Regions from separate parts of the Homo sapiens genome. Here region 2 is linked to region 1. The links come from fine-mapping of genetic effects on gene expression. Tissue or cell type: lung. Region 1 holds a variant in brackets; the other region holds the start of a gene. All regions are shown on one strand. Distances are from middle to middle.

Evidence for each region. PIP is the estimated chance that this variant, and not a neighbour inherited with it, causes the effect.
Region 2: it holds the start of KIAA1549, and the variant in region 1 is fine-mapped to the expression of KIAA1549 in lung (TOPMed, PIP above 0.99).

Annotation. Positions count from the first base shown.
Region 1 is chr7:138,906,842-138,914,946 of GRCh38, forward strand. KIAA1549 reads right to left here. Exons shown (of 20, transcript NM_001164665.2): 3 at 5,531-5,619; 4 at 4,305-4,482; 5 at 2,150-2,280; 6 at 78-261. Among named protein-coding and RNA genes, the nearest start is that of KIAA1549, 70 kb to the right of the region's middle. The variant G/A (reference allele first, on the strand shown) is at 4,414.
Region 2 is chr7:138,977,522-138,985,626 of GRCh38, forward strand. It overlaps KIAA1549, which reads right to left and starts at 3,868. Exons shown (of 20, transcript NM_001164665.2): 1 at 3,562-3,868. The coding sequence starts at 3,748. RefSeq lists silencers at 2,482-2,776, 3,616-3,745, 3,786-4,165, 4,186-4,315 and enhancers at 2,787-3,673, 4,296-4,645.

The DNA of each region.
Region 1 (8,105 bases):
AAAAATTTTAAGAAGAGGTCTTCCACCAAAAATGCCCGCCATCACCTCCCCAGCATGTCCAAGAGGGCTGTACTCACGCTCTGCGATCTGCAGCACTGGGTATCCCAGATAGAAACTGAACTCCACCACACTCAAGTTTCTGAGCAGCTCGCTCACTTCCGACCCATTCAAAAATCCCTGTGTGCTTTTAACCGCAAAGATGATATTCACCGGGCCCCGCCGAGGAGTCACCCTTGAGGAACTGATGGTGATATTCAAGATCTGAAAGAATAAAGTCAGAATAAGCTTCTATAATAAAACATTCTGCTGAAAGCTTAACCATGATTTCTCTCTCACAGGTCCTCTCACCGATTTTTTTAAAGGAGGTAAAGTTTTTAAAGGAAACGTAACTGGCTTTCTAACCTGGTTCCCTTTTGTAAGAGTTTAACTGCTCAGTTTATGGAAAATGTTTCTTACATTAAGTGATGAACTGAGCACATGTACAGCTCCTCCCACCCCAAATGCCACTGAAATAACAATAAGCTGAACACAGGGGAATAAATCCACAACAGCACTGAGAATGGAAGAAAACTAGAGATTCCGTCAAACCTCTGGGGGATGAAGAAAGGATGGGATTGGATTGATATAAACCAGAACAGAGAAAGCCAGAATCCAAAACATACACAAGCATGGGCTGCAGCAGAGCCAAGGGCCACGCTCTCCAAGAGGACCAGGAGGGGCTCTGTGGCAGAGATCAGCAGGAATGAGACCAAGAGCAGGCTACACAGTGGTAATCAGTATAATTAATTACAAGGCTGTGCCAAAGAGCTGAGTGTATTGCCTTCCTCCTCCGTCCTTCCTAACTGCCACACCCAGGCCAACAGAGGTGCTAGCAGCAGCCAGGCCCTCACCCAGAACAAGACTGCCTCCTGAGGAAAACAAACTCCTGCCTAAGAGGACTATGGTGGGTCTGGGCCCTAACCAAGAAGGTGGGCAGAGGCTAAGATAACTCCTGTGCACACCGAAGAAGGAAAGAAAATGAATGAAAACGCAGCTAGCTCTGCCCTGAGACACACACTAAAGTGCCCCATCCCCTAGGAAGAACCTCTTTATCTAGATGCTGGAAGGAGGGTGTTCCCTGTCTGCTTGTCTCTGACCACACACTGCACCCAGAGAGAAGCCCACGCTGACATATTCTGCCCCAGACCCAGCGCTCCGACGAATTTTCCCACCAGGAGATGGAGCTGACGTAGAAAGAGATCCCCACAGCTCAAGGGGAAAGCTGTGCCAGCTACTAAAATGAACAACTTGGTTCTTCATTCCTAACAACAAACCAACAGTCTCCAGATTTACAGAAACTAACAGCACGAAAGCAAAGCACCGAGATCAACATGCAGAGCAAGGACTGCAGAGAAAACAGGAATGACTTAGGAAACAGAAGACGCATTTTAACAATTCTAATTAACGTCCTCAGAGACTTTTAAGGTGACACTGCATCATCGCAGGAAAGCCTACAATGAAAATGGAGCAAAGAACAATGAACAAAAAGCTTAAAAATTCAGTAGAGGGATTGCATAACATAATGGACACAGCTAAGGACTAAATTCATGACTTGGAGGACGACATTTAGTAAATCTGTAAAAACAGAGAATAAAGAGATGGAAAATATGAGGAAAAAATAAGAAACATGGAAAGTGGATCCAGGAGCACCAAAATCTATTTTAACATCCATTTTGGAAAGAGAGAGGAAAGAATGTAGAGGGAAAAAAATCAAAGAAACATAAAAACATCAGCAGTTTCCATATGATACGTACAACACCCGTTCTTAGTAGCTATATGGAAACAACAGTATGGGTAGGCATTCCCCCATTGGATATTTAGGTTGATACCATTCCTTTCTAGGTAATTCTTGAATTTCCTGAATATGGTCATGTTTCTTCAGCTCACCATATCTGAGCTCCCTGGGTATCAGCTACTCTGCAACCCTCAAAGATGCTCAGCCTGTGCACGCTATGCCGACCTTACGCCACAGGAATAGATCAATCCCGACTCACATAAACTGGGTTTCCGCCACTGGAGGGAATAAGAGTTAAGCACATCTTAAACAATGTGGAACAATTTCCCCTTCAAGGGCTAAAGCCTTCTGCTCTGCATTCAGTGATATTCTCACCTGCACCGTGAGGTTATACGTTCCCTGGTGGTGTTTTCTCACTTCAAAGAGAGCTGTCATTAGGCCTTTCTCAATGCGCTGGGTGAAGTTGCAGAAGCCAGTATCCACACTCGGAGGCACAAACTGAAGTACTGAAAAGAAAAGCAATCAAAGTCCCATAAATGAGGTGTTTGTGCTTCTGAAGTATTAAGGAATCAAGAGAGAGAAACATCGTATCTAAATCAACCAATTCATCCATAGTATGGGATTAAGTACTGTGATGTAACATTTCTACGTATTTTCTCACGGAAATGTAAAAGGTAACTTTGCAGTAAATGAAGACATGCAATGTGACGGTGACTGGTATCATTTTAAAATGAAAAATATCTAAGATAAGAATTTGAGTATCAAAAGACACAATGGATGGAAACATTTCAAACATATATAAATTCATTGTAGATGAATTCTTGAATATTTATGGGTGAAATGACATGATACCTGGCATTGCTTGAAAACACTCTAGTGTCCACAAAAACGTTCACAGGGGATAGATGAAACAAAATTGGTGATGTTGATAAATTTTTTTTAAGCTTAACCATGGGTATATGTAGACTTAGTACTCTCTCTACTTTTGTAAATGTTTGAACATGTCCACAATGAAAAGTTAAATATGATATTTAGAAATTACTGTTAACAGCCAGGTACAGCGGCTCACGCCTGTAATTCCAGCACTTTGGGAGGCTGAGGCGGGCAGATCATTTGAGATCAGGAGTTCGAAACCAGCCTGGCCAACATGGTGAAACCCCATCTCTACTAAAAATACAAAAATTAGCCGGACATGGTGGTGGGTGCTTGTAATCCCAGCCACTCAGGAGGCTCAGGCAAGAGAATTGCCTGAGCCCGGGAGGCAAAGGTTGCAGTGAGCAGAGATCGCGCCATTGCACTCTAGCCTGAGCAACAAAGCAAGACTCCAGCTCCAAAAAAAAGAAAAGAAAAGAAATCACTGTTAACTTCATATACATGTTTAAAGTCTTTATCTTTTAGAGGCTATATAGGCTGAAATATGTGTGGGCGAGATGATACGATGCCTGAGATTTACTTTAAAATAGTACAAGAGGAGGGGAAGTAGATAGTAGATGGGGGTGTGGCTATAACAAGACTGGCTAGGAACGGAAAAGTGGTTGAAGACATATGAGTACACAGTGGTCTGTTAAACTATTCTACGTACTTTTGTACATGCTTGAAATTTCCCATAATTATAAACACTTTTAAAAGTTAAATAATAAGGTCAGGTGTGGTAGCTCACACCCGTAATCCCAGCACTTTGGGAGGCCAAGACAGGAGGATCGCTTGAGCCCAGGAGTTCAACACCAGTCTGGGCAACTTAGGAAGACCCCATCTCTACAAAACATAATGTTTCTTAAATTCTTTTTTTTTTTTTTTTTTGAGATAGGGTCTCACTCTGTTGTCCAAGCTGGAGTGCAGTGGCACGATCTCGTCTCACTGCAGTCTCCACCTCCTGGGTTCAAGTGATTCTCCTGCCCCAGCCACCCAAGTCACTGGGATTACAGGCGTATGCCACCATATCTGGCTAATTTTTGTATTTTTAGTAGAGATGAGGTTTCGCCATGTTGCCCAGGCTCATCTCAAACTCCAGAGCTCAAGTGATCTGCTCGCCTCAGCCTCTCAAAGTGCTGAGATTACAGGCATGAGCCATCGCACTTGGTCTAATTTTTTTTTTTTTTTTTTTTGTAGAGACAGGGTTTCATCATGCTGCCCTGGCTGGTCTCAAACTCATGAACTCAAGTGATCCATCTGCCTCAGCCTCCCAACCTCCTCTGCCTCAGCTCCCACCTGGTGGGACTACAGGTGTGAGCCACCATACCTGGCCTAAAAAAAAATTAAAAAAAAAATTAGCCACGCATGGTGGTATACACTTTTAGTCCTAACTACTCAGGAGGCTGAGGCAGGAGGATTGTTCGAGCTCAGGGGTTCAAGGCTACAGTGAGCTATAATCACACCACTGCATTCCAGCCTGGGCAACAGACTGAGATCCTGTCTCTAAAAATCATCATCATAATAATAAATTCTAAAAATGATTTCCAATATTTTAGAAAGATAAAAAAAAAATGAAATTCTTTTTACAAATAAAAACAACTATGCTGAGCTGTCTCACCTGTTTGAACTTGGAACCTGGACTCTGGCACAAGGAAAGAAGGTTTCACAGACAGGATTAAAGGAGTCTGGTCACGGACAAGCTTACTGTTTATAAGCACATTTATGAC[G/A]GATATTGCCGTGTAAACGAAAGGACCGGATGTTACCAGAAAAGTGAAGTCAGTAAATAGTTCGTAAACCTAGGGAAATAAGAAATACAAAGACAATTCAAACTTAAAGGAAGTTGTGTTACACAGAAAAATAAAAAATTATAAACTAAAAAAACTGGTAGTTTTGAATGAAGGGGTAGTGCATCACGGATAATCAAAATTTTATTTTAGTTACTGCTTTTACTCTCTGCCAACCTTTGCAAAAACAACACAAAATTATAAGAGCAGCAAGAAAGAACAGTCAGAAATATGAACTGAATAATGAGTTATAGGGCATTCAAGCTGTTTGTTGTATTTAAAACACATAGACAAGAGTACTTATCCTATTGAGCAGCACTGTCCAAAATAAATATGCAATTTAAAAATTTCTAGTGGCCACATTAAAAAACATAAGAACAGGTGAAATTAATTTTAAATACATTTTATTTAATATATCTAAAATATCATTTCAACATGAAGTCAATACAAAACACTATTAATGAGATATTCTACCCTCCTTTTTTCACTGCATTTTTCAAGTCTGGTATGTATTTTCCACCCACAGCCCATCTCCGTTTGGACGAGCCCCATTTCACTGCTGTATCGCCATGCGTGGGGCGCGGTTCTGGTTCCGGATGGCTCTGCTCTAGATGGACTGTGGCTTTCTAGGATCATTCAGTCTAAAAGATTTGGATCTCCATCTCTATCCTACCAAATGTCCAGAAAGATGCACCTGTACTCACTCTAACGTCTAATTTAAACACGAATCCAAGTCCTTTCATGTGAATCAAGGGAAGTAAAATCACGAAGGCTGTCACCCCAGACTGCTGCCTCTGGTCTGAGAGCCCTTTGTTCCAACTCTGCCAACACATCCCCTAAAGGACTAACCCTGACCTCATGTGGGATCAGGAAAGACCTCCTCGATGCAGTGACGGTGGAATGGAGATCCAGAGGATGAGCAGGACTTAACCAGGAACAGACAAGAGGGAAGAGATGAAATAGAATGATTCCATGGCCATAATCACCTGCCTCTAACCTGGGGCTCTCACATCAGCCCCAGTCTCACCAGACATCACACTCCTGAGCCACCAGGACTCACCTTCAGTTCCACTGCACGGTTGAAGTGAATCCTCAGTACTTCTTTGATTGCTGTAATGATGTACTCCTGCACAGCTCTTCTGGCCAGCACTGCAAATGAAAGCAAACCACCAAATGCCTTTTCATGTCATTATGAATAACAAACACACCAGACTTCTGGACCCCAGCACTGTGCCAAAATGTGTTAGCAGTTCCAAAAGTCTTTTTGTAAAATAAAGGCCAGACCAAGACAGAACAGGGGTTAAGGATCTAGTTGCTGCTAACTACCTGGAGAAGAACAGCAGTGGGGACCTTGAAGACACCAGGTCAACTCTGCATAGCATCAGCTCAACACACTAAGAAAACCCTCTTTGCCCCAGATAGGTTAGATCAGGAATCAGCAGTGATGACCCAGCCAGGGGACAAGGAGCTTCCAGTTCTCATTTTCACCTGGACAAATTCCAGGCTGTCTCTCGGCTATGTCCCTGACAACAAAACATGAGGCTTTAAAAGCTCTCAGAAGGAACATTTTTCTTTTCTTTTCTTTTTGAGACCCGCTCTGTCGCCCAGGCTGGAGTGCAGTGGCGCAATCTTGGCTCACTGTAAGCTCCGCCTCCCGGGTTCACACCATTCTCCTGCCTCAGCCTCCTGAGTAGCTGGGACTACAGGTGCCTGCCACCACGCCCGGCTAATTTTTTGTACTTTTAGTAGAGATGGGGTTTCACCGTGTTAGCCAGGATGGTCTTGATCTCCTAACCTTGTGACCCACCTGCCTCAGCCTCCCAAAGTGCTGGGATTATAGACGTGAGCCACCGCACCCAGCCAGAAGTAACATTTTTAAAGGCCTTAAGATGTTACTCAACAAAACCAGATGACATCTTCCTCTGTAAAATGAGGTCTCCTACCCCAATGTTTCAAGGCAAAGGTGAAGAGTTTTTACCACTAATCATGGGGAAAAACGAATTCCACAATTCCCACATATTAAAATTTTATGTAGGAAATAAAATATTTCTCATAACCAAAGCCTAGTTCTGTTTGACTGTTTTCATATTTTAAAAGTTCCATTTAAAAATCTATACTAATAAGTAAGCCTGTCTCTCAGTATTTAGTAAGCGTGTTCTTCTTTTTCCTATTTTTTCTCTCCTCTTCCATCAACTTCCCATAATGCAGAATTAGAATACACTTGATATTATCATTGTTTTCCATTTCCTGATTTTAATTTTTTAAAGTAGAGACAGAATCACTCTGTATTCTTCATTCTTTAAAACAAAAATGTTTAATTTATATTTGATTGTTTTTTTCTAGGAATCAGTGATCTGAAGTTTTTTTAAAGGTGAGTGGAGGCTCCTTTATTAGTTTATGAGACCACTGGAACAAATCCACAGCCCCAACCACCTTGCTGAGTCACACCAGCAGCCAACTCCGCATGGCCCACATAGGCTCCAAGTGGGTTGGACTATGCTATAGATCTGAAAGGGAAAGATAAAATGAGGAGGAAGGAAAGGGGGAAGAGTGGCAAGAAGGAAAGATGCCTTATTTAAGGAAGGAAATGAAGAGGGAGGGAGAAATGAGGAAAGAGGGAGACAGGAGGGAGGAGGGAGACAGGAAGGAGGAGGGGACAGAAAAGGAGGAGGGAGGGAGAGGAGGGAGAAGGAAAGAAGGAAGGAAGGAAGAAAGGAAGGGAGGAAGGCAGGGAGGGAGGGAGGGAGGCAAGAGCTAAACTCGGGGGAAACAGAGGCAGAATGGGAAGTCAGAAACAGAAAATCCCTAAATAGGAAAGCAGGAAGAACACATTGTAAGCAGCCCCACACAGCTAAAGACATCATCGGTCTAAATGCCACTCTGCAAAGTCCCCACAGCCACCACCATGACCTCCACTTTCTCCAGAGAATCTGAGAAAGCTATAAAACTGCAACATTAGGATATGAGGACACCAGTCTTTGGGAAAAGGGATCATCAGCAAACAAATATCTTACAGATCTTTTCCTAAATGAATGTTTCCCAGAGCTAAGAGAAGAGAGGTGACAGAGACTTCCAGAGGCAGCACAGGGTCAGAAAGGCCCTGGGTGGAAGCGCGGCTCATGCCTCCCAGGGCGCGTGCAGGCAAGTGCTTCCTCCGCCATCGCAGACCCCCAGCACCCAGAGTGGCTCCGCTTCATCATCACAGAGCACACAGGAAGAATCCTTTCAGGGGTACGCGGAGTCACCTCAACCCCCTCACCACACTCTCTCACTAACGGACAACCATGAAAAGGACAGCAAGGTCCAACCTAAGCAAAGGTAAGAAATGAGCCGATACTTCCTCTGGGTCAAAGGTATCACCAGGAACAAAAATGGCACTTATCTCCGCTAAAAGACACAATTTAACAGCATGGACACTCACACACAACTCTGGACATTTACAAAAACTGTTCAAGTGTACTTAACAATGGCTGAATTTTACTCCAAAGAGCTGTTAAAAATACATGGATACCTAATACAGGCACCAAATGTCATTAAGTGTACACCACATATGAAAGTTAAATCCAGCTATGAGGACTCCTAAAGAAGCTTTCAGTGACTCTTTAAATAAGCTGCTTACAACTGACCACTTTGTA
Region 2 (8,105 bases), 71 kb after region 1:
TTCATTCAAAAATCACATACTGAGTACCTACTAGGGGCCCAGCATTTTGAACAAAAGATGCAGAAATCCAGCCTGGTGGGCCTTACATTTTAATCACACTCTAATACCCCTTCCACAAATGTATACTCAAGAAAACACACACACACACACACACACACACACACGGAAAGAAACATGCACAAAGCCTTTTTTTTTTGAGACGGAGTCTTGCTCTGTCGTCCAGGCTGGAGTACAATGGCGCCATCTCGGCTCACTGCAACCTCTGCCTCCCTGGTTCGAGCAATTCTCCTGCCTCAGCCTCCCAAGTAGCTGGGATTACAGGCACATGCCACCACACCCAGCTAATCTCTGTATTTTTAGTAGAGACGGGGTTTCACCATGTTGGCCAGGATGGTCTCAAACTCCTGACCTCAGGTGATCCGCCCACCTCGGCTTCCCAAAGTGCTGGGATTACAGGCGTGAGCCAGCGCGCATGGCCAGCAGAGCCTTCTCTATGTAGCTATTCATCAGCATTACTTACAGCAACCCAAAAAATGGAAATAAAAGAATAAATCATTAGGATAGAAAATAGTTTTCAAATAAGACTTAATGAATGGAAAAATGCTTAAGTTAAATGTAGAGTGGAAATGGTAGTAAATACAATTGTGCATATAATTCTTTTTTTAATGTTAACAACAAAAAAACGATAAAATTACTTAGTGTTACCTACAGGCTGTGAGATTATGGGTGACTGGTTTCTGTACCTTTCAGTAATTTCCAAATTCCCTACAAAGCAATCTATTTCATAATAACTATTACTTTTTAAAAACTTATCTCTGAATAAGGTGAAGAAACTGGGCATGATTCTTTGTTTTTATACTGTGGATGGCTAATCACTTAAGAGCAATGCATTCAAAAGTAAGTCCAAAGCATTACAAGTTGTTTCCACAACAGTCAATGGTTAAGACCAAACTTGTAAATTTTTTTTTTAAAAAAACACACTCAAAATGCTGAATGAAATACAAATAGACAAGAAATCGATTTAACATAGAGATTTAACCAAAGACTGTAATAAGGGGACCACCTGGAAGGTGGACTCTATTGAACAAAAGTTAACAAGAGAAGCCAGCTGAAGGAGGAGATAGCTTTCAGACAGCCACGGAAGGGAATGCTGCCTCACATAGGAAGTCCAAAACAGGTCTAAGCCATGCCATTTTCTGACTACCACTGCTTATTCCTTAGAAAGAGAACCAACCACCACAGCAGTGTTCAGCAAAGCTCTCCTACATTCCAAATCTCCTGGTGAAAATACCACACTCAGGACTGGGAGGGCAGCCCAAGCAACTGCAACGCACCCTCTTCCCAGGATCAACAGCACCGCCCAGGCACCCTACACACACCCTAGCTACATCAGGAAGCCACCCTCCACCAAGATCGTTCCTCACAGTCTTCAAGTAGATGGGGTCACCTCCAGCAGGTCATCCATAAGGAATCCTGCCTTTCCTGTCCGGGAATGGTCTGTGCAAGGGTTTGTACTTCCTTCACTGCTCTGTGTTTCCAGCTGGATCCTGGAGCACAGGGGCTGTGCCCTCCACTTCTTAGTTCCTAGTCTATGAGCCTGGCAGCGGCTGAAGCCAATATACAAACCAGTGAAAGGATGAAGTCTCTTTCCATGATGTCAGGTCTAGAATGGAAATATTATTAATTTCATGTCTCCAGGTTGAATATTTGTATTGGGGGTAGAGGGGAAGCAGGAAAGGACTTCCAAAGAAGAGAAGGTTAGGGATGGGCAGTGCAAACAGCTTCACTATTTATTTTAAAGTTACCAGAAGCACTTATATTCTCCACAACCTCTGCAGTACACCCAGATGGCCACATTCATATGGGGAAGCCATCAGGCACAGAAAGGAAGCATGTCATAGAGTCTGAAGCCAAACCAACCTAAACTCAAAGCCTTAGTTTCCTCATCTGTAAAATGGGGATAACTATGCCTAACTCACAACGTGATTGGATCGTGTATATAAAATTCAACATCTGGCACACAAAAAGCACTCAGGAGATGGAAACCATTTATCTGCTGTGTCTTATGACAGATGAATCCACGAGTATCAGATGGGCTCTCTTTGTTGACTAAAGCCAAGAGACCCTTGACAATGATCTCTTCTCCTCTGGACACACAGGGCTGGAACTCGCAGGAGCAGGACTGAGACGGGAGGTCCTAGGTTAGAGTAAGGTGTTTGCACTAGCTGTATACTGCCTAAAAGAGACTCATTCTGTCACCCCAACCCTGGTTCCACCCAGCTATGGGAAATCTCTGCAGAGGCTTCAGGTGTGGATATGTCTATGGGCCAAGAGCGGGGGTGGGAGGCAGGGAAAGTGATGACTGTGACCTTGAGCAAGGCACTTCTCTGCCTTAGTTTCCTCTTTGGTAAGCAGAGTGGACCTGTTCCATGATCCCTGAAGTCCTCCCTGTGCTTCTATTGTACCATCCCCTCTAGGGCACTGGTTATAATTCTCACAGGTCCAAGGGACACCTTCAAATGTGTTCCAATTCCTCCCAGCCACTGAGTAGCCCTTTGGCCCTGCTCCCACGAGAAAGGAGGATTCGGAGCAGCGTTCACGGCTTTCTGGTTTTTGTTCTGTGTGCAGCAGCTCTCCACCCCTAGCTGCTCCTTCCACCTTTCCTTTTCCGCCTCAAAGTGGTCAAGTGCCTGTGCAGGGGCAATCGCTGGCCTGCAGTGTCAGCTCAGAGACGGTTTCCAGACCATCCTGTGTACAGGCTCAGGGTGGACAAATAAACATTTTGGAGAAGCAATAGGAATTAAATCATTTCTTCCACAACAAAACCCTTATGCTTCTTCATAAATCATGCCTCTTCATTCCATACTGATGAACAGTCACTAAATTGCATCTGTTATAAAAACAGCCCTTACTCCTTTCATGCCCAGACACTTAAGAATCAAAATATTTTCACACTCCATTGTACTAATAATGCCTTGCAGAAGTAATACCAATAGCTATTTCCCTGGAAAGATCCGTGGCCAGGGCGCTTTCCAAGAGGTTTTCTTTGAATGTTCTTTGTGTCCTGCTGTACGGGGGGACACGGCCGGCCTGCCCGCATCTGGGGGACGCTGGGCTTGTCCCGGTAATGCAATACTCTTTTAAAGCACACCTCGAATCCACCTCTTCGCCCCGACAATAAAGTATCTCAAAACATTCGATATGCCACATCATACAGCCTTGACAAAAAAGCACGCCGGTGCCTGCATTCTGCAGGAAAAACCAGGCACATTCTGAGATGAAGCCACCAGACCCGCTTCGGGTTCCATGGACAAGAGAACAGCTTTGCAGACCCCTTAGCAAGACCGGCCAGAAGCCGCTCGCTTGTTCGTTTTAATTATTTATTTCCCCCGTGCCTTTATTTGTTGGGCCCCAGAAGAATGGCAAAGCATCTTCCAGAAAGGACGGCGAGGGAGCTGGAGAATAAAAGAGGATGGGCGGGGAAAGCCGGGGTTTTGAAAACAGCAGCGATAAAGGCAGGCGGGGTCGCGGCCGCGTTCCGAGGGTCTCGGCGGAGCTTACCTGGGGCGCACGAGGCCGGCCGGGCCAGCAGCAGCAGCCAGAGGCCAGGAAGCAGCAGCCCCGGGCGGCGGCGGCGGGCGCAGCGGGCGGAAGGCCGTCGGCCGCTCGGCCCCGGGGCCAGCGCGACCCCGGCGCGGGGCTTCCCCTCCATGGCCGCGCCTCGGCGTCGGCGCCGCGCCCCCGGCATTCCCGGCCGGCGCCCCGGCCCGGCCTCGCGGCTCAGCGGCTCTCGGGTCCGGGAGGGGCGGCCGCTGCGGCTGCGGCTGGGACGGGGCGCCGCGCACCGGCGCGGAGGGAGGCCGGAGAGGCGGGGGCGGGCCGGGCCGGAACCGAGGACAGGGGCGCCAGCCGCACGCCCGCCTTGCCGCTCCGCCCCCTTCGGAGCCTCGGAGCCGCTGCCCGGCAACGCGCGGGCCCGGGCGCGGGACGGCGAGCACCCCCTCCCGGCCGGCCGGACGCCTGCCTGCCTGCCTGCCTGCCTGCCTGCGGGGCGGCCGGGGCAGCGTGCGCGGGGCTCGGCGCGGCAGAGGCGGCAAGGGCGGCGAGGCGGCGCGGCCCAGCCCTCCCCCAGGACCCGCCTTCCGGAGGGAGCGCGAGGGGCTCGGGGGGCCTGGGCCGGGCGGTGCCGCCCCGACCCGCACCCAACCCCGGGTCCCGCCGCGCGTTCCCCGGGGCGCCCGGATCAGGGTAGGCCGGCAAGCCGGGGGAGGGGTCCTCTCGCCTCCCTCGCTCCTCCTCTCCCGCCGACTCCTTGCGGGCAGCAGGTGTGTGGGGCGCCGCGCTCTCAGGACAGCCTCGGGGCCGCGGAGGGGACAAAGCCAGACAAAGTCGGGCTCCTGCGCTAGAGCTCAGCGTGCAAGGCAGGGGCGAGCAGAGCGCACGCAGCTCTCCCCCGCCTTCCTGCCTTAAGAAGGTGCGGCCACCTCTGCGGGTCTTCGGGAAGCGACCCTGCGCTCAGGGCCTGGGAGGCCCGCGGGACCCTGCACTTAGCAGGCCTTGAGCAGGCGGCTGCTGAAGCGAATGGGCGTGGAGCTGGGGAGACCCGCAAGGCCAGGCCGTTTTAGGGAAAGTGGCGCTCCTGAGAGGTGGAGAGAATGCCCAGAGAGCGTTTGAGGGTTGGAGTCCGCGGGGGGAATGAGGAACGGGAAGAAGGGAGTTGACATCTGTCAAGTACCTACTGTGTGCCAGGCACGTCACTCTGAAGACGCCCCGTGGCTTCAGGGTCTAGGGAGGAGGAATTGGAAGTTTTGAATCGTTGCATCCCACTGGCATTGTTGCATCAAGCAGATATTAACGGTGTGTGTGGGGGACACTATCTCGTGCAGAAAAACTATGGCAGACAGCGGAAAAGGTGAATCATTACACTGGCAGAGGGATCCTCGCGGCTATTCAGTCGGGTTCCCCTGCCAGGCCCAGCCCTTGAAGGGGCTGCCCAGCCTTGCAGCTCCAACTCTTCTGGACTCCTTGCCCTTGGCGAATAGTTCTTCCTAAGAATAGGACAGGGGCACTCTTCTGTAGGTACACACCTGGTCCTTACAGGTGGGTACTTGAAACCTGGTAGTTTCAAGGAAAATGAGAATAAAGGTTAAAAAAAGCTTTTGTTGATGTTCCTGGTGTTTTTACACGTTATTGTAACCCCCCATCATACAGCCCCTATGTTTATTACAGTAACTGCTCCTGTCTCCCAAAGAGGGTTCTGCGTGCACACCCAGGTAAGTACCTAAGAGAAACTGCCCAGATATGTCTGGTCCCAGGACACCATGGCCATAGATCTGGGACCTCTTATTCACACACTTATCTTTATTCTCTGAACTCTCTATAACAGCACATTTGACCACAAACCACTGCCTTCGTGCAACTCTTGAATGGTCTTGTCCTGTTGTGTTGTTTTATCTTTTATGAATTTATGCTTTGCACACACAGCCCCCACCCCACCTCCAATAAATTAATATGAAATTCAAATATGGTGCTATCCTGCTTAGGATTTCTCATAGCCCCAGTAAGCCCTCAGTAGACAATCGTTGGTTTGAGCCAGAGCATGCATTCCGCCCGTGAAGAGGTTCCATCTTCAGATTTGGCCTCAGCCTCCTGCAAGCTGCCATCTACACTAGACCCGTTGGTGTCAGAGAAAAAAGCCTCCCTCGGCCATGCGCGGTGGCTCACGCCTATAATCCCAGCACTTTGGGAGGCCAAGGCAGGCAGATCACCTGAGGTCAGGAGTTCAAGACCAGCCTGGCCAACATGGCAAACCCCGTCTCTAATAAAAACACAGAAAAATTTACCCAGGCATGGTGGCACGTGCTTGTAATCCCAGCTACTCAGGAGGCTGAGGCAGGAGGATCACTTGAACCCAGGAGGCGGAGGTTACAGTAAACCAAGATCACGCCACTGCACTCCAGCCTGGGTGCCACAGCAAGACTCCATCTCAAAAAAAAAAAAAAAAAAAAAAGGAAAAGAAAAAAGAAAGGAGTCTCCTTCTCCATTCTCTGCAAACTCAAAGACAATAGTGTTTGCCCTGCCATTAAGAGATTGATCAGCTGGAAGTAAAAATAAAAATTGGAACCCTGAGATACTAGAAATGACTCATGGACACCAAAGTGTCCGTGGAAAGTGAGGTCCCTAGGGTCCCTTAGTCTCCCAGCTCTGAAGGCATAAAACAAAATCTTACCTCTGTTAGGATTTAAGGCATTCTGCCTCCATGTCTGGGAAAATGTCTACCAGGCTCTGACAGTCCAGCTGGTAGGTGGTGTTACTCTGCAGACTCAGAGGGGATGAGTGGTCCTTGGAGGTAGGGGAGTGTGTGCAAATGTGTGTGTGTGTGTAAGATTTTAAAATCGATTTTAGAGATCATCTCATCCAATTCTCATAGATAAAGAAACAAGCCAGAGAGGTTAGTTTATTTCCATAAGGCTCAACTCCAACTGGAATTGTCGTCTCCAGTTAAACCACACACCCTCCAGGGGAGGGGGAAAATTAACCTGGGTCCTCGATAGGCTTACAATCTGGTTTGGAGACAGGGAGAGGTAGGCTCAGTACTATCCTTAGACCTAGACGAAGCGGGCCCCACTCTGGCCTTCTCAAACTGCACCTCTCTCCTCAGGACAGAGTCTGTGAAGCCCAGGAAGCACCCTCACCAGCAGCCCATCTTCCCATGCTCAGGTGCCCAGGACCCCAGAATCCTGCCCATTTCACCCCAGGCTCATCTTCAGGCCTATGTGGCCTCTTCCTCAAGTCCATTCTCCCAAGGCTGCACCAAGGGTGTGTCTGGTCCCACGGGGTAGTTGTTTGCTAGGGAGTGGCAAAACTTACGCAGGAGGCATCTCTAAAGATGCGCACATGAAACCTATAGGAATGAAGCAGAGGACCAGGGATGGGAAGAGAAGATCGGGCATGGCCCATATTCACATGGCAACCTGGCTGCGATGTTCTGCTCACAACTGCAGGAAGTCTGCGAATCCTGCCTGTGAACCAGCCTAACCATTCTGAAGACATACGTTTGTTAAGGTAGAACAGACATATTTAATAGTTTGCTTGCTTGGCATGTAACTTGCTGATGAAAATCTGGTCATCGATGTGAAATGGCCAAAATGGCCAAATGTGAAATGGGCTGCGTGAGCCCCTATTTGCACTCTTGACCTGGGCCCCTCAATTCTTAGGGTCTGGATAAGGATGGGACAGAGGGACTGAAGTTAGAGGATGGCTGGAAGTCGGTAGAGGGTAGTGTGAGAGTCCTAGAATAGGAATCAGGACAGCTGAGTTCTGCGTTCTGCTCTGTCACAGAAAAGTTTATGAACTTGAACAAAATGCTTCACCCTACTCTCAAACCTCAAATGTTCTTATCTGATGATGGGCTTCACATGCCTACCTTGCTTAGCTGTGGGTTCGGTTCTTAAGAGAATTATACAAAATAAGATGAATGTTCACAAAGGTCATTCATTAAATTCAATGAATATTTTTTGAGCATGTACCATATGCCAGGCAGTGCAGTGGGCACTGGAGGTATAACGGTGAACAAAACAAAGGCCCTTCCTCGTGGAACTTATGTTCTAGTGAGAGGAGACAGGCAATCAGTAAGTGAGCCTTCGGCTGATGACAACAATTTGCAGAATAACAAAGAGGGAAAAGGAGTGAGGGAAGGGTCAGTGTTACTGTGTTAAATAGAATAGTCAGGGATGATCACCCTACTAAGGTGACATTGGGCCATGGGGATAGCTGGGGAAGAGGGTGTCAGGCAGAGGGAACAACTGTGCAAAGTGGAGAAGTAGCCAGAATAAACATTCAAAAAATATTTACTGAGTCCCTACTAAGTAAGCGCCCCGTAGAGTCATGTGCTAAATGATCAGTAAGATTAATTAGGCCGGGCACAGTGGCTCACGTCTGTAATTCTAGCACTTTGGGAGGCTGAGGCAGGTGGATTGCTTGAGCCCAGGAGTTTGAGACCAGCCTGGGCGACATGGTGAGACTCCCATCTCTATGAAGAAATCCAAAACATTAGCTAGGCATGGTGGCGTGCACCTGTAGTCCCAGCCACCCGAGAGGCTGAG